Regions from separate parts of the Homo sapiens genome. Here regions 1, 2, 3, 4, 5 and 6 are each linked to region 7. Evidence: fine-mapped QTL for protein levels in blood plasma. A gene starts in region 7. Each other region holds a variant in brackets. All regions are shown on one strand. Distances are from middle to middle. Region 1 overlaps LOC101928516 (a long non-coding RNA gene). Region 2 overlaps LOC101928516 (a long non-coding RNA gene). Region 3 overlaps LOC101928516 (a long non-coding RNA gene). Region 4 overlaps LOC101928516 (a long non-coding RNA gene). Region 5 overlaps LOC101928516 (a long non-coding RNA gene). Region 6 overlaps LOC101928516 (a long non-coding RNA gene). Region 7 holds the start of CD109 (CD109 molecule).

What was found. PIP is the chance, under the fine-mapping model, that this variant and not a neighbour inherited with it causes the effect. The UK Biobank Pharma Proteomics Project read protein levels with antibody pairs (Olink). The fine-mapping took linkage between variants from a reference panel, not from the people measured, so its PIPs are less certain.
Region 1: its variant is fine-mapped to the plasma level of the CD109 protein (UK Biobank, PIP above 0.99).
Region 2: its variant is fine-mapped to the plasma level of the CD109 protein (UK Biobank, PIP above 0.99).
Region 3: its variant is fine-mapped to the plasma level of the CD109 protein (UK Biobank, PIP 0.93).
Region 4: its variant is fine-mapped to the plasma level of the CD109 protein (UK Biobank, PIP above 0.99).
Region 5: its variant is fine-mapped to the plasma level of the CD109 protein (UK Biobank, PIP above 0.99).
Region 6: its variant is fine-mapped to the plasma level of the CD109 protein (UK Biobank, PIP above 0.99).

What each region holds. Positions count from the first base shown.
Region 1 is chr6:74,554,800-74,558,881 of GRCh38, reverse strand. All of the region lies in intron 2 of LOC101928516 (a long non-coding RNA gene), which reads right to left. Among named protein-coding and RNA genes, the nearest start is that of SNORD156, 570 kb to the left of the region's middle. The variant C/T (reference allele first, on the strand shown) is at 1,736.
Region 2 is chr6:74,339,112-74,343,185 of GRCh38, reverse strand. The region is part of intron 1 of LOC101928516 (a long non-coding RNA gene); the gene reads right to left. Among named protein-coding and RNA genes, the nearest start is that of CD109, 640 kb to the right of the region's middle. The variant T/A (reference allele first, on the strand shown) is at 1,932.
Region 3 is chr6:74,447,367-74,451,448 of GRCh38, reverse strand. The region is part of intron 2 of LOC101928516 (a long non-coding RNA gene); the gene reads right to left. Among named protein-coding and RNA genes, the nearest start is that of SNORD156, 680 kb to the left of the region's middle. The variant T/C (reference allele first, on the strand shown) is at 2,176.
Region 4 is chr6:74,212,151-74,216,232 of GRCh38, reverse strand. The region is part of intron 1 of LOC101928516 (a long non-coding RNA gene); the gene reads right to left. Among named protein-coding and RNA genes, the nearest start is that of CD109, 520 kb to the right of the region's middle. The variant G/A (reference allele first, on the strand shown) is at 2,279.
Region 5 is chr6:74,250,202-74,254,283 of GRCh38, reverse strand. All of the region lies in intron 1 of LOC101928516 (a long non-coding RNA gene), which reads right to left. Among named protein-coding and RNA genes, the nearest start is that of CD109, 560 kb to the right of the region's middle. The variant G/A (reference allele first, on the strand shown) is at 1,808.
Region 6 is chr6:74,574,678-74,578,677 of GRCh38, reverse strand. The region is part of intron 2 of LOC101928516 (a long non-coding RNA gene); the gene reads right to left. Among named protein-coding and RNA genes, the nearest start is that of SNORD156, 550 kb to the left of the region's middle. The variant CTTTTT/T (reference allele first, on the strand shown) is at 1,652.
Region 7 is chr6:73,693,480-73,697,556 of GRCh38, reverse strand. It overlaps CD109 (CD109 molecule), which reads right to left and starts at 1,354. Exons shown (of 33, transcript NM_133493.5): 1 at 1,268-1,354; 2 at 1-157. The coding sequence starts at 1,341. CD109-AS1 (CD109 antisense RNA 1) reads left to right here and starts at 1,426. Exons shown (of 2, transcript NR_110889.1): 1 at 1,426-1,725; 2 at 1,982-3,654. RefSeq lists a silencer at 1,185-1,234 and enhancers at 797-1,511, 1,465-1,724.

The sequences.
Region 1 (4,082 bases), 860 kb before region 7:
GTGGGATAATTGTGGAAGGAATACAGAGTTGAAACAGGCAGAATTTATTGATTTGGTCCACTAAGTAGGGATTCTGCTTTTAATGTCACAGCTCGAGGAGTTAAAATAGTTCTAATAGTTTATTTGCTTGGTTAGCTGAAATATAGATTAAAAGATGGCCCACTATGAGCCAGCTGGAAATGCCTGATCTTCCTTGGTTTAATGTAGAGGAAAAGATCCAAAGGCTTAGGGACATTTGGATAGTGGAGTGCATTACTTATTTAGACCTACTCATCCCAGCTGGGAGGGTTCAGAAAATATCCTCTTGACCAGTGCCTTGAGAAATAGATTTGTGAAGGCAGCACCTGCATCTGTGAGTGAAGAGCCCTGTAATTGCTCTTCTCTGTATGTCAGATCTAAGAGTGGAAACGACAGTCACTCGACTACAAAATTTAAATACAATGGGAATTGGATCTTGAGGTGTCAGGAGCCACGTGGCGGCACTCAGCCATCAAAGGCAAGGTGGGCATAGCTACCATAAAGGATAGCAGAGGCAAAATACCAATCATAATAGTCTGACTTCTGTAGAGCTCTGGCCTTTTCTAATTAATCACAGTGTTCCTGGAAGTGAAATTGATAGGAAGCCTACTGCATTCCTACTTAATTTATATAAATAGAAAACTTCTAGGTCAATTGAACAAAAGACTAATTTGAATTATAAAAACAGATAATCAAGGCCCCTCAGTCAGTTTCCAGACTTGAGCCAGTTTACAGACCCAGAACCCCTTGAATGAAGGGAAGACCAGGTCTCTGTGAAGAAGGACCCCACTACATTACCAACAATTGATGCAATGAATCTTTCTCCCATCCTTCCCCAAGGAGACCACTGGCCTTTTAACAGGGTAACTGTGCATTGGGAAAAGGCAAATGATCAGATATTTCAGGGAGTACTGGACACTGGCTCTGAGCTGCCAATGATTCCAGGGGACCCAAAACGTCATTGTGGTCCTCCAGTTAAAGTAGGAGCTTATGGAAGTCAGGGAAATAATATAGTTTTAGCTCAAGTTCAACTTACAGTCGGTCTAGTGGGTCCCCAGACTCATCCTGCGGTCATTTCCCCAGTGCCAGAATGCATAATTGGCCTAGACATACTTAGCAGCTGGCAGAACCCCAACGCTGGCTCCCTGACTGGTAAGATGAGTGCTATTATGGTGGGAAAGGCCAAATGAAAGCCATTAGAGCTGCCTCCTCCTGGAAAAATAGTAAATCAAAACTAATATTGCATCTCTGGAGGGGTTGTGGAGATTGGTGTCACTATCAAGGCCTTAAAAGACACAGGGATGGTGATTTCCACCAAATCCCTATTCAACTTTCCCATTGGCCTGTGTAGAAGACAGATGGATCTTGAAAGATGACAGTGGATTACTGTAAGCTTAACCAAGTGGTGACTCCAATTGCAGCTGCTTTATCAGATGTGGTTTCATTGCTTGAGCAAATGAATGCATCTCCTGGCACCTGGTATGCATCCACTGACTTGGCAAATGCCTTTTTCCCCATTCCTGTCCATAATGCCCATCAGAAGCAATTTGCCTTCAACTGGTAAGGCCAGCAATAACCTATATTGTCCTACCTCAGGGGCAGATCAACATTTGGGTTTGTGTCATAATCTTATACAGAGAAATCTTGATCACTTTTTGCTTCCACAAGATATCACATTGGTCCATTACATTGATGACATTATGCTGATTGGATCCAG[C/T]GAGCAAGAAGTAGCAAACACACTGGACTTATTGATGAGACATTTGCATGCCAGAGGATGGGAAATAAATCCAACTAAAATTCAGGGAACTTCTACCTCAGTAAAATTTCTAGGGGTCCAGTGGTGTGGGGCCTGTCGAGATATTCCTTCTAAGGTGAAGGATAAGTTGCTGCATTTGGCCCCTCCTACAATCAAGAAAGAGGTTCAATGCCAAATGGGCCTATTTGGATTTTGGACCCAACATATTCCTCATATGGATATGTTACACCAGCCCATTTATCGAGTGACCTGAAAGGCTGTCAGTTTTGAGTGGGGTCCAGAACAGGAGAAGGCTCTGCAACAGGTCCAGGCTGCTGTGCATGCTGCAGTCCCACTTGGGCCATATGAGTCTGCAGATCCAAGGAGGTGTCAGTGGCAGATAGAGATGCTGTTTGGAGTTTTTGACAGACCCTGAGAGGTGAATCACAGCAGAGGCCTCTAGGATTGTGGAGCAAGGTGCTGCCATCCTCTGAAGATAACTACTCTCCTTTTGAAAGACATCTCTTGGCCTGTTACTGGGCTTTGGTGGAAACTGAACGTTTGACTATGGGTCAACAAGTCACCATGTGACCTGAACTGCCTATCATGGACTGGGTGCTTTCTGACCCATCAAGCCATCAGGTGGGTCGTGCACAGCAGCATTCCATCATCAAATGGAAGTGATATATATGTGATCAGGCTCAAGCAGATCCTGAAGGCACAAGTAAGTGACATGAAGAAGTGACTCAAACGTCCATGGTCTCCACTCCTGCCACCTTGTCTTCTCTCCCCCACCCTACACTGATGGCCTCATGGGGAGTTCCCTATGATCAGTTGGCAGAGGAAGAGAAGACTAGGGCCTGCTTCACAGATGGTTCTGCACAATATGCAGGCATCACCAGAAAGTGGACAGCTGCAGCACTACAACCCCTTTCTAAGACATCCCCAAAGGACAGCGGTGAAGGGAAATCTTTCCAGTGGGCAGAACTTCTAGCAGTGCACCTGTTTGTGCACTTTGCATGGAAGGAGAAATGATCAGATGTGAGATAATATACTGATTTATGAACTCTGGCCAATGGTTTGCCTGGATGGTCAGGGACTTGGAAGAAGCATGATTGGAAAATTGGTGACAGAGATTTGGGGAACAGGTATGCGGATGGGTTTCTCTGAGTGGTCAAAAACTGTGAAGATCTTTGTATCCTATGTTAGTGCTCACCAGTGGGTGACCTCAGCAGAGGAGGATTTTAATAATTGAGTGGATAGGATGACCCTTTCTGTGGACACCACTCAGCCTCTTTCCCCAGGCACCTCTGTCATTGCCCAATGGGCCCATGAACAGTGGTCATGGTGGTAGGGATGGAGGTTACACATGGGCTCAGCAACATGGACTACCACTCACAAAGGGTGACCTGACTACATCCACTGCCGAGGGCCCAATTTGCCAGTAGCAGAGATGAACACTCAGCCCTCGATATGGCACCATTCCTTGGGGTGATCAGCCAGCCACATGGTGGCAGGTTGATTATATTGGACCTCTTCCATCAGAAAGGGCAGAGGTTTGTCTTCACTGGAATAGACACTTCCTCCGGATATAGGTCTCTGTTTTGAGCCACCTAAACCTGACGGTGGTATGACATAAGCCCCCTTCTGGTCACCACCACTATGACTGCACTGGGTCAGACCTGTGGTCAGCATAGTCCTGGGCCTCACCAAGGCCTTCTGTAACTAATCCCTTGCTATTACACATTTTCACTCAACACCCTGACACTCTGCAATCAGCATGTGGCAAAGCCAGTCAGACCTGCATCCTTTCCTCCAGAGCAGCAAGTTCCCCTTAGGCCCGGGGTAAGTCCAGAAGTGCCATCCGGAAGTCAGAAATAAGGCTCAAAAACCTTAGCAGTCTACCTTATGTTCTATTGAACTGCGGTTGAGCTGGAACTCTTACCACAAGATGCAGTCTTTCCCACCATTCCCTCCCCTTTCCAAAGGTAGAGGAGCCTCACCTGCTACCGGCCATGAGAAATATTGCCAGACTACCATAGATATTCCCTTAAGGCCCACCCAAGGGCTCTTAAGTAAGCTTGTGCTGAATGCTGCTTGTCCTGAGACTCACCCTTCAGGGCAGTGGGCTCCCCTCTGGCCCAGGGCAGGTTCAGAGATGCTGTCCAAGAGTCCAGTCCTGCAAATGGGGACCTCGGGAGCCCATTTGGTGTTCTACCCCACTGTGGCCATGCTGGTATCTACAGTGCAAGACAAAGTTCCCTTTACCTTCACTGTAATTGTCTCAAGCAGACTCTTTTTCCTGTAACCATCAGAGCTGGTAATGTGC
Region 2 (4,074 bases), 650 kb before region 7:
GACACCTCACACAGCTGGGTACCCCTCTAAGACAAAACTTCCAGAGGAACGATCAGGCAGTAACATTTGCTATTCACCAATATTCACTGTTTTGCAGCTCCACTGCTGATACCCAGGCAAAGAGGGTCTGGAGTGGACCTCTGGCAAACTCCAACAGACCTGCAGCTGAGGGTCCTGACTGTTAGAAGGAAAACTAACAAACAGAAAGGACAACCATGCCAAAACCCCATCTGTACGTCACCATCATCAAAGACCAAAGGTAGATAAAACCACAAAGATGGGGAAAAAGCAGAGCAGAAAAACCGAAAATTCTAAAAATCAGAGAGCCTCTCTTCCTCCAAAGGAATGCAGCTGCATTCACCAGCAATGGAACAAAGCTGGATGGAGAATGACTTTAACAAGTTGAGAGAAGAAGGCTTCAGATGATCAAATTTCTCTGAGCTAAAGGATGAAGTTCGAACCTATGGCAAAGAAGTTAAAAACCTTGAAAAAAAGATTAGATGAATGGCTAACTAGAAGAACCAATGCAGAGAAGTCCTTAAAGGACCTGATGGAGCTGAAAACCAAGGCATGAGAACTACATAACGAATGCACAAGCTTCAGTAGCCAATTCAATCAACTGGAAGAGAGGGTATCAGTGATGGAAGATCAAATGAATGAAATGAAGCGAGAAGAGAAGTTTAGAGAAAAAAGAATAAAAAGAAATGAACAAAGCCTCCAAGAAATATGGGACTATGTGAAAAGACCAAATCTACGTCTGATTGGTGTACCTGAAAGTGACGGGGAGAATGGAACCAAGTTGGAAAACACTCTGCAGGATATTACCCAGGAGAAACTTCCCCAATCTAGCAAGGCAGGCCAATATCCAAATTCAGGAAATAAAGAGAACGCCACAAAGATACTCCTCGAGAAGAGCAACCCCAAGACACATAATTGTCAGATTCACCAAAGTTGAAATGAAGGAAAAAATGTTAAGGGCAGCCAGAGAGAAAGGTCAGGTTACCCACAAAGGGAAGCCCATCAGACTAACAGTGGATCTCTTGGCAGAAACTCTACAAGCCAGAAGAGAGTGGGGGCCAATATTCAACATTCTTCAAGAAAAGAATTTTCAACCCAGAATTTCATATCCAGTCAAACTAAACTTCATAACTGAAGGAGAAATAAAATACTTTACAGACAAGCAAATGCTGAGAGATTTTGTCACCACCAGGCCTGCCCTACAAGAGTTCCTGAAGGAAGCACTAAACATGGAAAGAAACAACCAGTACCAGCCACTGCAAAAACATGCCAAATTGTAAAGACCATCGAGGCTAGAAGGAACCTGCATCACCTAACGAGCAAACTAACCAGCTGACATCATAATGACAGGATCAAATTCACACATAACAATATAAACTTTAAATGTAAATGGGCTAAATGCTCCAATTAAAAGACACAAACTGGCAAGATGGATAAAGAGTCAAGACCCATCAGTATGCTGTATTCAGGAAACCCATTTCACATACAGACACACACATAGGATCAAAATAAAGAGATGGAGGAAGATCTACCAAGCAAATAGAAAACAAAAAAAGGGAGGGGTTGCAATCCTAGTCTCAGATAAAACAGGCTTTAAACCAACAAAGATCAAAAGAGACAAAGAAGGCCATTACATAATGGTAAAGGGATCAATTCAACAAGAAGAGCTAACTATCCTAAATGTATATGCACCCAATACAGGAGCACCCAGATTCATAAAACAAGCCCTTAGAGACCTAGAAAGAGACTTAGACTCCCACACAATAATAATGGGAGACTTTAACACCCCACTGTCAACATTAGACAGATCAACGAGACAGAAAGTTAACAAGGATATCCAGGAATTGAACTCAGCTCTGCACCAAGCTGACCTAATAGACATCTACAGAACTCCCCACACCAAATCAACAGAA[T/A]ATACATTCTCCTCAGCACCACACCACACTTATTCCAAAATTGACCACATAGTTGTAAGTAAAGCACTCCTCAGTAAATGTAAAAGAACAGAAATTATAACAAACTGTCTCTCAGACCACAGTGCAATCAAACTAGAACTCAGGATTAAGAAACTCACTCAAAACCACTCAACGACATGGAAACTGAACAAACTGCTCCTGAATGACTACTGGGTACATAACGAAATGAAGGCAGAAATAAAGATGTTCTTTGAAACCAATGAGAACAAAGACACAACATACCAGAATCTCTGGGGCACATTTAAAGCAGTGTGTAGAGGGAAATTTATAGCACTAAATGCCCACAAGAGAAAGCAGGAAAGAGATAAAATTGACACCTTAACATCACAATTAAAAGAACTAGAGAAGCAAGAGCAAACACTTTCAAAAGCTAGCAGAAGGCAAGAATTAACTAAGGTCAGAGCAGAACTGAAGGAGATAGAGACACAAAAATCCCTTCAAAAAATCAATGAATCCAGGAGCTGGTTTTTTGAAAAGATCAACAAAATTGATAGACTCCTAGCAAGACTCATAAAGAAGAAAAGAAAGAAGAATCAAATAGACGCAATAAAAAATGATAAAGGGGATATCACCACCAATCCCACGGAAATACAAACTACCATCAGAGTATACTATAAACACCTCTACGCAAATAAACTAGAAAATCTAGAAGAAATGGATAAATTCCTCAACATATACATGCTTTCAAGACTCAACCAGGAAGAAGTTGAATCTCTGAATAGACCAATAACAGGATCTGAAATTGAGGCAATAATTAATAGCTTACCAACCAAAAAAAGTCCAGGACCAGATGGATTCACAGCTGAATTCTACCAGAGGTACAAGGAGGAGCTGTTACCATTCCTTCTGAAACTATTCCAATCAATAGAAAAAGAGGGAATCCTCCCTAACTCATTTTATGAGGCCAGCATCATCCTGATAACAAAACCTGGCAGAGACACAACAAAAAAAGAACTTTAGACCAATATCCCTGATGAACGTCAATGCAAAAATCCTCAATAAAATACTGGCAAACAGAATCCAGCATCACATCAAAAAGCTTATCCACCATGATCAAGTGGGCTTCATCCCTGGGATGCAAGGCTGGTTCAGTATACACAAATCAATAAATGTAATCCAGCATATAAACAGAACCAAAGACAAAAACCACATGATTATCTCAATAGATGCAGAAAAGGCCTTGGACAAATTCAACAGCCCTTCATGCTAAAAACTCTCAATAAATTAGGTATTGATGGGATGTATCTCAAAATAATAAGAGTTGTTTATGACAAACCCACAGCCAATATCATACTGAATGGGCAAAAACTGGAAGCATTCCCTTTGAAAACTGGCACAAGACAGGGATGCCCTCTCTCACCACTCCTATTCAACACAGTGTTGGAACTTCTGGCCAGGGCAATCAGGCAGGAGAAGGAAAAAAAAGGCATTCAATTATGAAAAGAGGAAGTCAAATTGTCCCTGTTTGCAGATGACATGATTGTATATCTAGAAAACCCCATCATCTCAGCCCAAAATCTCCTTAAGCTGATAAGCAACTTCAGCAAAGTCTCAGGATACAAAATCAATGTGCAAAAATCACAAACATTCTTATACACCAATAACAGACAAACAGAGAGCCAAATCATGAGTGAACTCCTATTCACAACTGCTTCAGAGAATAAAATACCCAGGAATCCAACTTACAAGGGATGTGAAAGACCTCTTCAAGAAGAGCTACAAATAAAACTACACTGAGTTTTATTTTCATTGAGAACTACACTGCTCAATGAAATAAAAGAGGATACAAACAAATGGAAGAACATTCCATGCTCATGGGTAGGAAGAATCAATATCATGAAAATGGCCATACTGCCCAAGGTAATTTATAGATTCAATGCCATCCCCATCAAGCTACCAGTGACTTTCTTCACAGAACTGGAAAAAACTACTTTCAAGTTCATATGGAACCAAAAAAGAGCCCACATTGCCAAGTCAATCCTAAGCCAAAAGAACAAAGCTGGAGGCAACATGCTACCTGACTTCAAACTATACTACAAGGCTACAGTAACCAAAACAGCATGGTACTGGTACCAAAACAGAC
Region 3 (4,082 bases), 750 kb before region 7:
TTTAAAGATACTTGGTGATTGCCTCTAGAATTGCAGACTCAACATACCTAAAAATAAGAATCAGTCTCCAAAGGTTTTGCCAACTCAGTGCAACCCAGTGATTAAAAGTCTTCAAACAAAAACATACCCTATTTCCTACATTTTAAAAATATGTATTTTTCACATTTTGGCATACCTGATGTTGGAATTTACCTTAAAAATATCTGCCTATGTAATCTATTCTCATTTCATTGGGACATCTTATACCTAATTGTTGCCCAGCATATAAAAAATTATGACACATGACTGAATAAAAACCAAATAATTCTTTTAAAACAGTGATTATTAATAAAAACACATAGCTGCTTATATTTAAGTGATGACATAAGAATAAAAAATATATGGCCAGAAAAATAATAAAGCAAGTGTTCTAAAATTTTAAATCTTTAATGAGTGAGTATGAAAATAAGATTATAACACATACATATCTGCATAATGGACAGTGAGTTTTTCCAGAAAATTAAATTCATTATCCATTTGTATTAAGTAACATTGCTATGAAAAATAAAAGTAATTTGTATAAAACTAAGCAATTTCTTACATCAGCCAAGGATTCCATTACTAGGGACTTAACTAACATTTAAATATTAGACTAAAGAATTGGTGTCACTGTTCTTTAGTGATATGATAGTATAACTAGAAAGCTTAAACACTCATCCAAAAAGCTTCTAGATTTGATAAATGCATTCAGTAAAGTTTCAGGATACAAAATCAATACATACAAATCACTAGCATTGCTGTACACCAACAGCAACCAAGCTGAGAATCAAATCAAGAACTCAACCCCTTTTATAACAGCTGCAAAAAAAAAAAAACAACAACAAAAAAAAAACAGGAATATACCCAACCAAGGAGATAAAAGATATTTACAAGGAAAACTACAAAATACATCTGAAAGAACTCATTGATGACACAAACACATTGAAACACATTCTATGCTTATGGATGTGTAGAATCAATATTGTGAAAATGACCATACTGCCAAAAGCAATTGGTAAATTCAATGCAATCCCCATCAACGTAACCATCATAATTCTTCACAGAACTAGAAAAAACAATCCTAAAATTCATATGGAACCAAAAAAGAGCCTGTACAGTCAAACAAGACTAATCAAAAAGAACAAATCTGGAGGCATCACATGACCTGACTTCAACCTATACTATAAGGCTATAGTTACAAAAACAGCATGGTACCAATATAAAAATAGGCATGTAGAACAACGAAACAGAATAGAGAACCCAGAAATAAAGCCAAATATTTACAGCCAACTGATATTCGACAGAGCAGACAAAAACATAAAGTGGAGAAAGGACACCCTATTCAACAAATAGTACTAGCATAATTGACAAGCCACATGTAGAAGAATTAAGCTGGATTCTCATTTCTCACCTTATATAAAATCAACTCAAAATGGATCAAAGACTTAAATCTAAGACCTGAAACCATAAAAATTCTGTAAGATAAAGCCAGAAGAACCCTTCTAGACATTGGTTTAGGCAAAGAGTTTATGCAACAAAAACAATGATAAATAGATGGTACCTAATTAAACTAAAAAGCTTCTGCACAGTGAATAAATAATCAGCAGATTAAACAGACAATCCACAGAGTGGGAGAAAGTATTTACAAACTATGCATCCAACAAAGGACTAATACTCAGAATCTACAAGGAACTCAAACAAATAGGCAAGGAAAAATCATAATCCCATCAAAAGTGGGCAAAGGACATAGACAATTCTCAAAAAAAGATATACAAATGGCCAAAAAACATCAAAAAATGCCCAACATCACTAATTATCAGGGAAATGCAAATTAAAATCACAATGAGATATTGCCTTACTCCTGCAAGAATAGCAATAATTAAAAAATCAAAAAATAACAGATGTTGGCAGGGATGTGATGAAAAGGGAATACTTTTACACTGCTGGTGAGAATGTAAACTAGCACAACCACTATGGAATATGGTATGGAGATTCCTTAAAGAACTAAAAGTAGAATTACTGTTTGATCTACCAACCCCGTTACTGGGTATCTACCCAGAGGAAAAAAAAATGTCATTATATGAAAAAGACACTGGCACACATTTATAGCAGCACAATTCGCAATTGCAAACATATGGAACCAGCCTAAATGCCCAT[T/C]AACCAATGAGTGGATACAGAAAATGTCGTATATATATGCTATGGAATACTACTCAACCATAATAAGAAACAAAATAATGGCATTCACAGCAACCTGGATGGAGTTGGAGACAATTGTTCTAACTTAAGTAACTCACAAACGGACAACCAAACATCGTATGTACCCACTTATAAGCGGGAGCTAAGCTATGAGGATGCAAAGGCATAAGAATGATGTAATGGATTTTGAGATCTTGAGAGGAAGGTTGGGAGGAGGTGAAGGATGAAAGAAAAAAATAAAGAATTGATGTCATTGTGCAAATGATATAGTCCACAAGTAAAATCCAAGATTTGTTCTTAATGTCTTTAATAAATCATAAATGGAATACAGAAAACCAGAAATGCCCTTAATTTGTAAAAAATGGGAATCAATGTAACTGATTTGATTTTGCATAAAGTTTTACAATCAAAATATAAAATATTACTTTGATGAAAAACTCTGAATCTTTATATCTGGGGTCAACTCTAGGAAAAACAGCAGATAGTCAATTCAGTCTTTCACTTCACCTCCTACCTCCACCATGAACACCATCCCTGCTTGCTTTTTATAGAGGGAATGTGTTTTTTATTATTAAACCTTAATGAAGAAGAAAATCCTGCCATTTAGTTAACATGGGGGTGAACTTTGCAGACATTATGCTAAGTGAAATAAGTCAGACAGAAAGACAAATACCTGTACTAAATGATCTCAGTTATATATGAAATCTAAAATAATCAAACTCATAGAATCAGAGTTCTGCTGGATTTTGCCAGGGGCTGGAGGGAGGGGGAGACGGAGAGATGCTGGCCAAATGCTACAGACTTTCAGATATCCAGTATGAATAAGTTCTGGGGAGCTGATGTACAACATTGTGACTATAGTTAACAATGTTGTATACTTGAAATTTGTTAAGAGGGTGGATCTTAAGTGTTCTCACCACAAAAAAAATAAATAAATAAATAAAAAAGAAGCCCAAAAGTAGAAAAGAAAATGGATACTATGTGGTATAATGGATATGTTAATTAGCTTGATTGTGGTGATTGTTATTACTGTTATTTATTTTTTATTTAATTTTTTGAGACGGAGTCACACTGTCACCCAGGCTGGAGCACAGTGGGCATCATCTTGGCTCACTGCAACTTCTGCCTCCTGGGTTCAAGCGATTCTCCTGCCTCAGCCTCCCAAGTATTTGGATTACAGGCACCCGTGTCCATGCCCAGCCAATTTTTTGTATTTTTAGTAGAGATGGGGTTTCACTATGTTGGCCAGGCTGGTCTCAAACTCCTCATCTCGTGATCCGTCCACCTCGGCCTCCCATAGTGTTGGGATTACAGGCGTGAGCCACCGCGGCTTGCCTGTGGTGATTATTTCACAATGTTTACATGTATCAAAACATCAAGTTTTGATTGATATGTATATGTATATATATATATATATATATATATATATATATATATATACACACACACAACTTCTATTGGCCAATCATACCTCAATAAAGCTGGGGAAAAAAATGAAAAAAAAAAAAAACAAGATACTTCAGCACAGCCCAGGGAAGAGGAAATATAGTGTGAGACACATAACAGAGAATAATCCAAACTGAAAAAAGAAGTTGCTGTTATTTGAAAAGCAAAACAAAAGTCACCATTATATTAAAACAGGTTTTATCAATTTCAACAGAGGAAAAGTTATACATTTATATCAGAACTCCACTATGTAGTTTTTTAAATGCATTTTGCTATTTGTAATTATGCTTAAAATTCTCTAGTAATTGTTAGTTATAATCCTATAAAATGGATCAATAATTTTTAATAAATGTTTTCTATTATATTTATGAAATCATGTGTTAAATCATTTTTTAGGCATTGCTTTAAATACATCTTCGAAC
Region 4 (4,082 bases), 520 kb before region 7:
AGAAAAAAAAATTAGCTGGGTGTGGTGGTGCACTCCTATAGTCCCAGCTACTTGGAAGACTGAGACAAGAGAATTGCTTGAACCTGGAAGGCGAGGTTGCAGTGAGCCAAGATCACGTCACTGCACTCCAGCCTGGGCAACAGAGACTCCATCTCAAAAAAAAATATATATATATATATATGAAAAATTTTATGACAATAAATTTGACAATCAAATAACATGTACAAACTTCCTGGAAGACACATAATAAAATTCACTAAAGAAGAAATACATAACCTCAAAACTCTATAACTATTGAAGAAATTAAATTTGTAGTTAACACTTTTTTTTGTTTCAAAGACATCTCCAGACCTAGATTGCTATAGAGGGGAACTCTCTCAGTCTTTAAGGAAGAAATAATACTAATTCAACACAGTCTCTGAGAAAATTAAAGAGAAGAAAATATTTTCCAATTCATTCTATAAAGCCAGTGTTTATACTGATAACAAAACTAGAGAAAACCATTATAAGAAAAGAAAACTATAGGCAAATATTTCTCATGAATCCAAATGCAATCTTTTTTTTTTGAGACGGAGTCTCGCTCTGTTGCCCAGGCTGGAGTGCAATGGCGCGATGTCGGCTCACTGCAACTTCCACCTCCTGGGTTCAAGTGATTCTCCTGTCTCAGCCTCCTGAGTTGCTGGGATCACAGGCGCCCACTACTACACCTGGCTAATTTTTAGTATTTTTAGTAGTGACGGGGTTTCACCATGTTGTCCAGGCTGGCCTCAAATGCAAAAATTCTTAACACAAATTTTAGCTAATCCAATCTAGCAGTATATATACATAATACAGCATGACCAATTGAGATTTATTGTGGAAATGCAATACTTGTTCAGCATTTAAGAATTAATTGTATAAAAAGAAGAACCATATGATCACCTCAACAGATGCAGAAAAAGCATTTGAAAAAAAATCCAACATTTATTTGTGAAGAAAAGAAAGGAAAAGAAAATTCTCAGCAAACTAGGAATAGAAAGAAACCTCCTCAACACAATAAAGGAGATCTGAGAAAATCTAAAACTGACATCATACTTCATGGTAAAGCTTAGATGATATCCCCTTAAGCTTGCTCTGACCTTTTCTATTAAACATCGCACTGGAGCAATAAAATTAAAAAAAAAAAAACTAAAGTAATACAGATTGAAAAAGAAATAAAACTGTGTTTATCTGTGTGGAAAACCTGACAAAATATACATAATTACTAGACATAATAAATCAATTAATAAGTTTGCAGGATAAAGACCAACATACAAAAAAACTATTTCTACATATTTGTAATGAATAACTAAAATATTTTAAAAATAATTACAATCATATCGAATATTATAAACTATTATTTTAACATCAAATTAAAATATTTTTATCTTTGAAATACATACTTAAGAAAATAAAAAAGATAAGCCATGAACTGGAAAAAATTATTTCAAAACATACATCTGACAAGGGGCTTATACAGAGAGAATATATAAAGAATTCTTACCATGTAATTAGAAGACAATTCAATTACAAAATGGTCACAAGGCTTAAGCAGACAGTTCATGAAAGAATATATACAAATGTAAAAGCAGCATATGAAAAGATGCTCAATATTACTAGCTATCGGGAAAATGTAAATTAAAAATCACAATGACATATCACTACATATTCACTGAAGTGGCTAAAATTTTTAAAGATTGATCACATCAAGCACTGTTGAGACTGTGAAGCCACTGGAACCCTTGCTCATTGTTAGTAAGAAGGGAAAATGATACTGCCACTCTAGGAAATAGTAGGGCAGTACTTTACAAAATTTTACGTACACTTATCATAGACCCAGGAATCATCCAAGACAAATGAAAACACACAAAGATGTACACAAATGTTCAGTGCAACATTAATCATAATAGTCCAAAACTGGCAACCATCCAAATGCCTAAGTAAATGTATAAGCAATGTGAGATATATCCATATAATACTACTACTTACCAATAAAAAAATACTAATGTTCAAAACAACATAGATGATTCACAAAACCATCATGCTAAATCAAACAAGTCTGACTCAATAGACTGCGTACTATTTAATTCCATGTATATGAAACTCTAGAAGAGGAAAACCTGAAGTGGCAGGAAGCAGATCAGTGGCTGCCTACAGCCAAAGGTCAGGGGAGGGGATCGATTGCAGAAGTATAGGAGAAAACTTTTCAGAGGGATCTTGGTGCTGGTTGCACAACTCTGTACCACTAAGAAAATTCAGC[G/A]AACTGTTGATTTAAAATAGCTAAGTTTTAATGTATGTAAATTATACCTCAATTAAGCTGAGACAGATGATAGAGAGGGAGAGACAGACAGACAGATAGATTGGGAAAGCCAGCAGCACTCCCCCCAGTGTGCTCTTCAGTCTGCCATAATTTACCAGTTGTAGTGGCTTATTCAAATTTGAGGACTTTTGCAATTCCTTTCCTTGTAATTCTCCATAACTATGGCACCTACTTTGCACATCCAGCTATGAGTTGGTATCTATTCTCAACCTTGCAAACTGCAACTTTTCAAGGATATTTTATTGAATTCAATTAGGATCAGAGAAATCCTGATTCCTAATTGATGGCAAAAGTACCATCAACTGACAGTGTTAAAATGACAGTGTTAAAAAAATGTTAAGAACTTGCTTATTCACTTATGAGTCCTACTGAAGCATAATCATCATTTTATTATTCTAGTACCTTTGTTGAAATCATAAAAATATAGAATACTTTCCATAGATGGGACTCAAATGTGCATCTGGTTTCTTTCTTTGTTTTTTTCTTGTTTTGTTTTTTAAGTCTTTGATGAAATTTGGAACTACTGACTCACAGTTCCTTTGCCAACGCTGATTTTCTTTTTATTCTCTTCATTTTTGTGAGTCTTAAGAATGATTTAATTTCCATGTATATTGCCTTTTACCATATAGATGATTTGTCTAATATTTTGACAGCCATTCTTATGAAGTATTATATTTAACTTACCTGAAAATCTTCTAAGAGAAGAAAACTGAGATTTACTTTACTTTCTAAATGACTGATTTAAGGTCAACATAATTATAATAGTAAATTGCAATTATTAATAAAGTTTTCAAAAATGCAAATATAGATAAAAATAAACAACAGCAAAATTGTTAGCCACATATATTGCAAAAAAGAATACATGGTCCAATAATTAGTTATTATGAGATATTCTATCATAACAGAAAGAGTTTACAAGAGAAAATGTTGATTTCAATCCTCAAGAAGCTTGCAATCTCAATCATGATACAAAGCATAACCATATAAAACTTTTAGTCAACATTTAGTATAATAGTTCTTTTTATACTATGCAATTTTAATTTTCTTTATATAAATCCACTTGGCGAAAAATGTATTCTTTCCCAGAACTTCTTTGAAATAAGTTTTTTTCACCTAGACCAATCTACTAAAACTTGCATAGAAAAATATATGTATAGAAAGTATTTCTAAAAGAATTATTCTCTTGTGATATAAGAAAACATTATACCAAAGGTAGTATAAGATGAATAATAGTGAAGTTTCTTTTATTATAAATCCTTTCAAATTTAAATAAAAGAAAATGATCCCGGCATGGTTGCTTATGCCTGTAATCCCAGTGCTGTGAGAGCCCAAGGCAGGAGGATCAATTGAGGCCAGGAGTATGATGCCAGAAGTGTGAGGCCAGCCTGAGCAATATAGTGAGACCCTGTCTCTGCAAAACATTTAAAAGTTAGCCAGTGTGTGGCACACGCCTATAGTCCTAGTTATTCAGGAGGCTGAGATAGGGGCATTACTTGAGCCCAGGAGTTCAAGGTAACAGTGAGCTATGATCATGCCACTGCACTCTAGCTTGGGTGACAGAATGAAACCTTATCTCACACACACAAAAAAAAAGAAATTATAAATTTCAGAATTCTTAAAATTATTTGAAAAATCCGTGTGTGTGTGTGTGTGTGTGTGTAAGGATGGAATATTATATTTTCTAATTATCCTTTTAGGCTGTAAAATGATTCATTAAGTAAGTCTGTTTTCCTCCCCCAAAGAA
Region 5 (4,082 bases), 560 kb before region 7:
CTAATTCTCTCCTTCCACCTTCCCCTAGAGAAATGTCAGGACTGACAGATGGACCCTAGTTTGTGATCTCTATGACCAGAGTGGGTTCTGAGGCAGGACCAACCCTTACGGTTGAGCAGTCTGAGCATCTGACAAAAGGGAATGGTGGGTAGTCTGGTAACCTGCCCCTAACCTGCTCATCAGAGATGGTTTGCTGAACCAGGAGAAAGCTTGGCCCTTTCTAATTATAAAATAAAGCAGAATTTCACTCAAAAAAAAATAAAATAAAATAAATATCTATAGATAAATAAAACCTACCTCTTTTTTCCATATTGCCCCAATGCCATTCTTATGTAATGAAACATTTAATTAATCATGAGTGTCATGATGATCAGTTATTAATAATAGAAAAGAAGTTAGTATATTAAATCCTAATGTTTAATAAATGAGAAAAAGAATAAAGCAGCATATTAATAGAGTAGATACAGAAAGAACAAATGAAGAAATTTTGGTATAATGTTATTTAAAATACACTTTCAAAGGTGCATGTGATATACAGCTATTTCTCAAACTTACTTGCCAGAAGCTCTTCTTCTGTTGTTTATATATATATATATTTATTTTGTCATTTGGCTTCTTGTGGGACTGTATTCTAACAACAGTTCTTTGCTTGGCCAAACTTTAGTCAGGCTTCTGGACTTTCTCCTGGGCCTGTCTGTGCACATCATTCTAAAACCCAGTTTTAGCAAATAATACGGCCAACACAGTTTAGCAAGAATTATTCATCCTTGATATCTGATCACCCTCAGTATCTGATCAAAATTTTTCTCTGCCCACTCCTGTTAGCTGATCACCCTCGCCTGTTTTCAGCAGGAATCCTGTTAGGTTGGTTCTGCCAGAATTTCCCCCAGACTTGGTATCTCTTCTTAAAAATTTTCTGAGCATTTTTTTCATGTGTTTTTTGGCTGCATAAATGTCTTCTTTTGAGAAGTGTCTGTTCATGTCCTTCACCCACTTTTTGATGGGGTTGTTTGTTTTTTTCTTGTAAATTTGTTTGAGTTCATTGTAGATTGTGGATATTAGCCATTTGTCAGATGAGTAGGTTGCGAAAATTTTCTCCCATTTTGTAGGTTGCCTGTTCACTCTGATGGTAGTTTCTTTTGCTGTGCAGAAGCTCTTTAGTTTAATTAGATACATGGATGAAATTGGAAATCATCATTCTCAGTAAACTATCGCAAGGACAAAAAAACCAAACACCGCATATTCTCACTCATAGGTGGGAATTGAACAATGAGAACACATGGACACAGGAAGGGGAATATCACACTCTGGGGACTGTTGTGGGGTGGGGGGAGGGGGGAGGGATAGCATTGGGAAATATACCTAATGCTAGATGATGAGTTAGTGGGTGCAGCGCACCAGCATGGCACTTGTATACATATGTAACTAACCTGCACATTGTGCACATGTACCCTAAAACTTAAAGTATAATAATAATAAATAAATAAATAAATAAATACATAAAAATTTTCTGATCCCTGCTCTTTGGCTATAAATCCCTACTTATCCCTGATGTATTTAGAATGAAGCCCAGTTCTATATGGGGGTCTCTCTTCCCCTATTGCAATAGTCCTGAATAAAATTTCCCTTTACCACTTTAATTTCTGTCTCTGCTTTTTTTTGATAGTCCTAAGAAATGTGTTTGAAAAATATACCAACATTACCTGACAAAATTTATAGGGCAAGTTGGTACATTGTAGCCTGAAATTCTACTCATTCAATAAAATTTAAGGGACTATTATGTGCTCTTCTACAAGTAAGGACTAAG[G/A]TGATGTTATAATACACAGGCATTTTCCTTAATGAGTTTCCAATGAAGTGGTCGTTTTAGTTCTTTCAGCAAGAAATTACTATCAGCTCCGTATCTAAAGGGGCTCATGTAGTAAAATAAATTAAACCTGTCTCTGAAGTAAAATGTTAACATAATTCCTCTTCTGTAATTCTTTGTTCTCTTCACATAAGCAACTGTTACTACTCTAGACACAGATAAACTGTTAGATGGAATTCTCCAAGAATAGTTCTTACCAGCTTTACCAGCCCTAAGCATTAAAGCTGCATCTGAAAGGAAACCTAGTAGACATATTTACCTGCAAAGACACCTGGAGGCATTACTAACCCCAGAAATTTATGAAGACAACAGCAGAATTCTCAAGAATCACCATGCACGTTGTAAAGAAAAGCTGCTTCTCTTCACAGTACCATGTTTTTTCATACTACCTGACAGAACTAAATATAAGTCTTCCATTAACCCCAAGGTGTGCAGAATCAGGGGACAAACGAGACATAAAATTCGCAGATTTTCATTTTGAAAGCACAGTCTAGCTGTATCATAGTAATATTTGAAGGAAAATGTGATAACATGGGAATTTTTTATCACCACCTTCTACCCCAAAACTACCTAAAAACACTTAGGTCCTAGAAGGTGGAGGGCACCTTTTAGGTGCCCCAGGCAGATCTCTACTGAAAGATAGATTTAGAGGAGTCCCAGAGTAGAAGAAGTGTACAGTCTGCCTGTCCGGACTGTAAGGGTGGCAACCTTGCCAAAGTTTCTCCTACCTCCCTGGTAAAGTGGGGACAGAATGGCTGCAGGGGAGCCTGGCCAGCTGGCCTGTAGCCCAGAGAATCTTCCACAGTCCCATCTTAAAGTGCCAAGTAAAATAGCAAAGGAGCCTGATACTAGCTAAGAAACAATCTGTAGATCTGGAGAGGCCATGTCACCAGGAGCAGAGCTCAGACAGGCAAACACAGGCATCTGGACAGGTGCCAACATGGATTGATAGTTCTGCCAAAGCTGGAGATCTTAGATGCTTTCTTTTTTTTTTTTTTTTTTTTTTTTTTGAGATGGAGTCTTGCTCTGTCGCCCAGACTGGAGTACAGTGGCCCAATCTTCACTCATTGCAAGCTCCACCTCCCGGGTTCATGCCATTCTCCTGCCTCAGACTCCCGAGTGGCTGGGACTACAGGCATCTGCCACCATGCCCAGCTAATTTTTTGTATTTTTAGTAGAGACAGGGTTTCACCGTGTTAGCCAGGATCGTCTTGATCTCCTGACCTCGTGATCCGCCCACCTCGGCCTCCCAAAGTGCTGGGATTACAGGCGTGAGCCACCGCCCCTAGCCAATCTTAGATGATTTCATGAAGAAAAGGACAGAGAAATGGGAATTAAAAAAAAACACTTGGTGAAACATTGGATGATGTCTAGGCTCACCTGGAATTATCTAGATAAAGTTTCCTACTATCTAGCAGAAAGAGGGCTGGCTAAGTGAGCTCAAATTGATATGCAAGAAAAGGGAAGGAGTTACATTTTTCACATACCCCTGTGAAAATAGTGGCCACTAAACAGTGACCTATGGTATGTTTAGTAAGTTCTGATATTTACCTCTAATTCTTCCTTACCAGAAAACTGGTAATAACTAACCCAGAGTAAGCAAGACAAAGAACCTATTCTTTTCTGGAATCTCTTTGTGACCCTCTTGTCCCCTGCTATCAGCATTGATATGGTTGCTAAAAGATTACTGCATTTCTAAGAAATCATCTTTCACTTGTACATTTTTAAATCATAGTTTTTAAGTGTTGAATTATCAGCGGGTTTCTATAAAAGTTTTGGCTTCCTGCCATTTTACTCAACAAAATACTGCCTGTGTGTATGCAATGCTGCAGCCTTATAATTTAACTAAACTAAATAATTTGTGTTTGTATTTCTGAGGACTGTATTCTCTCTGTTCTAGCAGAAATCTTGTGAATATTAGACAAGGGAAAAGAAATCATGAGTAATTCTAATGGAAAGAGTCAAATACTATTTGTCACTTAAGGAGACTCACTAAGTACCTTCTGGGTTGTGGAAAGAGGGTGAGAAACAATAAATGAATCTGAGCTGAAAAGTAGACCTTCCATTGCATACTTATGTGAACAATGGAATTCTTACATAGCACCGTTAAAAATTACTCCAGAAGTAGCAGCCAAGAAACATCTAATATCAAACAGATCACACCAACTTCTAAAGACAGTTACCACTTTATACTGCAATCACTGATTTCCTTGCCTAT
Region 6 (4,000 bases), 880 kb before region 7:
GTGTAACATCTGGTATTTCTAAATAAAACACCAGAAAACCTCTGAATCATAGTAGGAAGAACTAACTAAAATATCAAGTAGTGTAGAAATGATATACTTCACAGAAGGGGAAAAAAAAAAACCTTCCTGCTTGATATAATTGCTCTTTAGAGATCACAAACAATGCTTACATTCTTGCATCTGTGTGGAACAGATCCTTTATGGCATTAAAGGCCTAACTGTTCATTTGATGCCCATGTGTAATTCCTTTTAGAGAAACTAAAAATAAGCTTCCAACAGGCTTACTCACTCACATACTCCATTGTGTGGACAGACAGCAAACAGGGGCAGAGAGCTAAGCCTTGACCCACTTACCACCCTCAGATGGTTCTGATCAATGTCTAAGAACCTATTAAAACCTTACTATTAGGGGATTAAAGGAAATAACAGATTCATCCTGGTTCCCCAGAGCTTTTGCCTTTTTTGGGACAAAATGGGCAAGGTTTTTTGTTTTTTTTTTTTGTTTTTGTTTTTTTTTCCAGATCTTTCCCTGAAGGTATGCCAATGAAATTATATACTCTCATCCTATAAAATGTAGTCAAACTTGATACAGAAACTAGTTCATGAAGATCCACAGAATTCCTATATTGTTACCTAAGAATTACATTTTAAATTCAAATAATACAAGAACTATTCTTTGTTCATGCAGTATATTTGCTTGCCTACAAAAATAATCAGAGTTCCCTGAGCCCTTGTGTTTCAGCAGTTTACAATATTAAATGGTCAACCCCCCTGAGTCCAGCTATCCACATTGCTTGCCCCCATCCTTCCTCCAGGCCATTCACCTGGTTCTCAGGCCTTCTCAGCTGTTCTTTCTGTTCTGCTTTTTGGCTATCACACACTGTCTCCCTTCCTGTTTCTAATGGGTAGATAATTTATTGCTCTCCCCTTCTTGTTACACAGCCTCACTATGTGAGCCCATAGATTCCTTTGTAGGTGGTATTCCTGTTGTTGGACCTGTGGTCTCTCTGGCTGCAGGAAAGGGGTATTGATGATACCTCTAGAAACCTAAGCCACAGTCCAGGCTCCAGCCCTGAGATGCAGGGTCCAGCCTCAGTTTGGCCTCTCACCCACTTAATATAAAAACAATTATCCAGTGAATGAGCAAAGCTATTCTTGGACTTAGAATATTTCTACTGGGCTTTAAAACTTTCCACCTTTATATTGACACAGTCAATAAGTTGCTCTTATATTAAGGCAACATAAATTTATTTTTAGCAAAATTATGCTGATGCTTGATCATTAGACCAAACTCACAAAAATGAAAAAATAAATTATAAGTATTTAGAACTTAATTATTGGTTTCCAGTTTGATACTGAGCTTAAGGACCTGATAAAAGTGTCTTTACATTTCCATCATTGACTGATCTTTCTACAGACAAGTTTACTCTGTTTCTATTCAAGCTCTGATAATCACTAAACCAAGAGGTTTACTTCACACCTTCTTTTATTTTCCTTGCTTCCCTATTGTACAATAGCAAAAGCCTGGACCGGTGGGTACACCAGAGATATCTTGTCCCTAGCCCTTCCTTAAATATTTCATATCCTCAGGTACTGTTTGCCCTCACTTGCTTTTCTTTCTCTTTCTTTTTGCCCTCACTCAGTTGCTTTT[CTTTTT/T]TTTTCTTTCTTTTCTTAGTCTTTTTTTTTTTTTGGTAGTGGCATGATCACGGCACAGTGTAGCCTTGACCTCCTAGGCTCAGGAGATCCTCCTGAGTAGCTGGGATTACAGGCGCCTGCCACCACACCCGAATAATTTTTTGTATTTTTAGTAGAAATGGGGTTTCACCATGTTGGTCAGGCTGGTCTCAAACTCTTGACCTAAGGTGATCCACCAGTCTCGGGCTCCCAAAGTGCTGGGATTACAGACATGAGCTACCGCAGCTGGCCTGAAGTGTATTTTCTAAAATAATCTATAAGTTCTCCATATAAGATCTTATTAAATACTTGAATCAATGACAAAACAATAAAATAATTTGTTTCTGATGCCTAAGAAAAATAAAGCTTTGCTAATAGTTACCATATTTGTAGATACATAGAATTTCAATTTAAAGGTTATGGTAATGGTTGAATTTTTCAACGTATTTCTTGATGGAATTTTTCCATATATAATCTGATTTTTCTGATGAATTATTTAATCTGTTTCAATGTGCTTTAAAATTGGGGGAAAAGGTTATGATAATGTATGGAAGCAGTATGGTGCTGTTGGTGACTCAAATTTAGGTATATTTATTACTTGGGTAGAAATTGAAAGAACTTGTAACATTTGCATTCTTTTGTATATAATTAAATACCACATGTATATATAATTTTAAATTTTTGCTAGCTTTTCACACAATTAACTTATTTGATCCTCTTAACAAATTCATAAGGTAGATGGGGTATATTTATTTTTAATACTATTTTGGAGACAAGTAAACTGGCATTAGAGGGGCTATATGGCTTTGGATTATGGTCTCATAAGTCATGCTCACTGGCACCATTCATTCCTTCATTCAAAAAATAGTCATCCCACTATGTTCCCATCACCCTTCTAAACAATGGGAATATGGTGATGAGCAAGATAAAAAATGTTTCTAAACTGATGTGCTTTAACCTCTGTTTCATCTGATAATAGAGATACCAAAGCTAAATAATTGTTTGAGCCTTGGATATGTTATTAGTACAGCGACCATAGAACTTATTGTCCAAACCAGGATACTTAATTATGAAATGAGGAGCTCTTTAAAAATATGCTGGTTCAAGAGGCATAAACTAGGGACTCTCTTGCAAACCAATCAGACTAATGGTCACCCTATTTATGGAGGCAGTCCCTTGATAAGCAAACCACTAGAGAACACCATCCTACTTATTTTTTAAAAGTTTCAGTCTATGGAATCAACCTAAATACCAAAGACTGGATAAAGGAAATGTGGTACATATATACCATGGAATACTGCACAGCCATAAGAAAGAATGAGATCATGTTCTTTGCAGTAACATCATTGGATCTGGAGGCATTATCCTAAGCAAGCTAATGCAGGAACAGAAAACCAAATATTGCATGTTCTCACTTATAAGTGGGAGCTAAACAATAAGTACACATGTACACAAAGGAGGGAACGATAGACACTGGGCCTACTTGAGGGTGGAAGTTGAGAGGAGGGTGAGGATTGAAAAGCTACCTATCAGGTAGTATACTCATTACATGGTTGATGAAACAATCTGTATGCCAAACCCCCACAACATGCCATTTACCTATATAAAAAACCTGCACATGTACCCCTGAACCTAGAACAAAAGCTAACAATAAAAATTAATAAAAGTTACAGTCTAATAAGAATTTCAAAATCTGACCTTCATTATTTTAGGGACTTCTGAATACACTGCTTTCCTCTATCAATTAAACAGGAAACTGCAGACTGAAGCAATAGGATGTTTTTGGGTGTAAGAAATAGAAAACTCAACTCAAAACTTGCTTATTCAGTTAATAGAATGTAATATCCTAAAATGTCTACAGGTAAAGCTGGCTCAGGTAGAGGCTTTATCTAATGGCCCAGCATCGACACGAAGGACCTGGTTTTGGTCTATCTCCTCGTTTGTTTTGATATAGGCTTCATCACAGGCAGTTACGCCTCAAGACCACCAGATGGCTTCCATAATCTCTCAGTTCTACAAATTCCTATAGTCCCATCAAGTAGGACAGTGTCATTGTCTTAGCAGAAAAAGTTGTTATAAATGTTCATCATTTATAGCGGCTAAGTTTATTTGACTATTTTGAACCATTCTCTGCATCTGGAGGATGAAGTGTGCTGATTGGCTTATCCTAATGTGATGTTTAATACTGAGTGTCAACTTGATTGGATTGAAGGTTGCAAAGTATTGATCCTGGGTATGTCTGTGAAGGTATTGCCAAAGGAGATTAACAGTTGACTCACTTAGATTTACTACCATATTTGGTAATGCAACTTCTTCTGCATGTGTG
Region 7 (4,077 bases):
TTCTGCTTCCAGGACAGAGACAGTGAGGTTTGATGCTGTCTTGAGCAGCTCCGCCTTCACAGTCACCTGTGAAGGGCAGTGTTCCAGAAGCTCCACCCCAATAGTCACATTTCCTCCGGGCCTGATGATCCCTGGGGCTGTCACCAGAAACCGAGGCCTAAAGAGTTCCCAACAAGGGAAAAACAAAGTTTCTTATCCTCACATCTCCTTTCTTTTGTGACCCTCAGATTTCCTAGTGCGATAGGCACTCCATACTGCGCCAATTGCAGTTGTTTCCGTTAACATTGCCCACTGCTCTATTTGGCAACTGAATTGAAATGCTACTGAAACAACAATAATTCCCATAAATCAATTTTAATGCAGTAATTCATGCATCACTACTAGAGGAAGGCCTGTGTTATTATTTCCATTTTATAAACCACGAACCGCACAGAAGGAACCATGATGTAAATGGCTTGCACCGGGGCATAATGGAGTTATTGGCAAAGCAAAAGTCTCTAAGCTTCTCCTTTACAGAGGACCTTATCCCAGCGTGATTATTTTCTTGTTGTTGTTGTTATTTTTTAACTAAGATTTTGCCTGTTTCTTATTCAAACCTTTATCCTTGAGTAGCTGCCCAACGAGGGTAAAAAATTATTTAACCAATACCATTGATTGAAATATACCATTTGAAAATAAACTACAACTGGTGAAAATTCCAGGTATAGCGAATCATAAAAGAAGTCACTAAAGCAGCACTTTCTCTGCTATAACTAGGGGTTAGGGCTCAACTACAGAAATCTTTAGGAATGAATGGGGCTTGCCATTATTGGGTGCTGTTGTTTTCTTCCTATAATGTCTGCCCCTGAACCCATACATCAGTCCCCTCCGCCACACTTTGGCAATGCTAAGGTTGAGACATCTTGGTTAGAAAAAATATATCATGTCTTTGAGAGAAGAATCGCAATCTGGGAGCAAAAAGTTGAGAAGCAAAAGGCAGAGGCAATGTGGACTAAAAATAAAATGACTCTCTTCAGAAAGTTGTTATGGCCGGGGAGACGCTTAAACAACTTCATGAGTGGAGAAAGTTAACTGTCCCATGGAGAGCCACGCTGAAGCTACATATGGTCAAACCTCCAGGCCAGTACCAGGCTGGGGACTGCAGCCGCGAGGGCATTTCCCACCCGCTGCTGCACAGCAGCCGCCACCTCCCCGAAGCCCTGGCCCAGAGCCGCAGAGCGGCCCAGGCCCGCGCGCCCGCGCGCCCCCCGCGCGCCCACGTTCCTACCCGGGAGCCACGGCCAGCGCGGCGGTGCACACGCAGAGGAGGTGGGCGGCGGTCAGGAGCGGTGGGCCCTGCATCTCGACGGCGTCTGCCTGGGCTACAGTCCGCTGCCGGGGAAGTTCGCGGGCACCGTGGGGTGTGGCTTGCCACCTCCTCCCTGATTTTTTTTCCCTCTTAATTCGAGTTTAGTAATCTGAAATGGGCGCGCCTAACAGCAGAGTGAGAGATCTAAATTGAGACAGGACTTGGAGGCTCCACCCCTCCCATCCCCATTACAATGGCGCTTCTCGCTGCTGTGGCAAACATCGCAAATCCAGGGGGTGAGAAAGCAGTTGCTAAACGCAGGCGGCCCCACCTGGCCCGGCGTCCCAGCTGGCCGCGGAGAACAGAGCGCGCCCACTTCCCCGGCCCACCGGGTTCCTCAGGCTGTTTACACTAGCGCTCTACCAACGATGCCCAGGGTGAGTAAACAGGCCCATCCTTGTGAGGAGAAATTCATAGCAACTATGTGAAGTGGAAAAAAGTCAATCATTGTCCTCCAGACTATGAGTCAGAATTTTAGAGAAACGGCACACACACACACGCACACACACACGCACGCACACGCGCGCAAAACCGGGGCGTATTTCCTGGGTAGTTATTTAATGTATATGAATGGAAACAGAAAAACTATTTTTCCTTAAAACAAAAAATGAGGTCTACTGCTTTCCTTTCCAGGAAAATGTTATGATTTATCACCTTAAAAAAAAAAAGAAGAAGAGAACTCGCACTGCAGACGTTAGGTGTTGCTACTTGGAACCCTGAAAAAAAATTACCTAAGAAGATGCCTTTATATTTTTGCTACAGAAAGAATTTGGTAGAACTGTAAAGCTTGGAGCAATCTCTGAACACAGTTAGGGTTGGGTTGGCTCTCCTGTCAGAATGAAGGCCAGTGGCCGGTGGTGCCCAGGAGTTATTGATGCCCAACGCTGTCTGGCTTCTTTGCAGCTCCTCTCTCCTGCTCTCTGGCACTGCCACCATCTTCAGATGACTCAGGTTTCACCATGACTACACCATAAAAGCAGGGAACTGCCAGAAACTGTTGGAAAACAGACACATTCAGTCCCTGACAACTTAAACTTTCTAATTCATGGAGCGGTTTTAGATGGTAGCATTCTAATATGGGGCAAAATGCAAACGGAAAAGAGGTCAGCAAAAAGATGTCTCATGACAAAGCTATGTGCTAAATAAGGAAAAGTGAGAAAGTAGCACCTAGACAAACTGTGGTTTGGGGAATCCAGAAACTTGCTTTCCTCCCTTTCCTGTTCCACCCTTTTTCTCCCTGCTGAACAGCTTGCAAAGGTCCTTATGTCCTTTCCTTCAGGCAGCCTATCTTTAGTGGCCAACTTCCTGTGCAGGCAGGACTTAGGAATGGTCAAAAGTGTCTGTGTGGATCCCTGGGTGCTGACCTGTTCCTGACACAGCTGTTACTACTGGTCTCCTCACCTCCGTTGTTCAGAGAGGAGGACCATGGTCAAGGGTGGGCCAAGCACCAAGGTCTAACTCAGTGCTTCTCACATGCCAATGTGTGTGAGAATCACATGAAAACAGACTCTGACTTGGCAGGTCTGGAACGAGGACTGGGATTCTGCTTTACTTTAGCAGACAGTAGGCCATGGAGACTCTACAAGTGGGGGCAATTTGGGGGCAATTTGATGAGCAAAGGCAATTAAGAACACAGAAAATTCTTCTCAATCTTTCACTTCATAAAGGTGGATTAATAAATTCAGGTTCATTCTAGAGGTAGGCAAACATAAGAGGGACTGCAAAAGATTAGATGATAATGTTGCCTCCCGAGAAGACTTACAGAAAGTCTTAGAACCACATTGTATAAATCTGTGTGGATTTTAAAGTGATGCCACCTTCCTGTTTATGCCCTCCTTCCCACAATACACACTTGTCGAAAGGCGTAGTCATGCAAAAATTTAGGCATATGGATTTGCATAGAGATGAGGCTATTACATGCCTGGCACAGAGTAGCTATTCAATAAAAATGTGTTAAAAGGATTAATGAAAAATGTTCATCTCAGAAGTGGGATTTTTTATTAAGAAAAACTGAAAATGAGGCCAGGCGTGGTGGTTCACACCTGTAATCCCAGTAATTTGGGAGACCGAGGCGGGTGGATCACCTAAGGTCACGAGTTCGAGACCAACCTGACCAACATTGTGAAACCCCATCTCTACTAAAAATACAAAATTAGCCAAGTGTGGATGGTGGCACATGCCTGTAATCCGAGCTACTCAGGAGACTGAGGCAAGAGAATTGCTTGAACCTGGGCGTTGGAGGTTGCAGTGAGCCGAGATCGCAGAATTGCTCTCCAGCCTGGGCAACAAGAGCAAAACTCCGTCTCAAAAAAAAAAAGAAAAGAAAAGAAAGAAAAGAAAAAAGAAACACTGAAAATGGGCCGGGCATGGTGGCTTATGCCTGTAATCCCAACATTTTGGGAGGCTGAGGAAGGCAAATCACTTGAGGGCAGGAGTTCAAGACCAGCCTGGCCAAAATGGTGAAACCCTGTCTCTACTAAAAATACAAAAATTAGCCCAGCATGGTGGCACATACCTGTAATAAAAGCTACTCAGGAGGCTGTGGCATGACAATCACTTGAACCCAGGAGGTGGAGGCTGCAGTGAGCCAAGATGGTGCCACTGCACTCCAGTCTGGGTGACAGAGCAAGACTCTGTCTCAAAAGAAAAACTGAAAATGGTCTGAACATGTAACAATAAGATATTGGGTTTGCTGTCATTTGGATGTTTGTCGCCCAAAGCTGATGCTG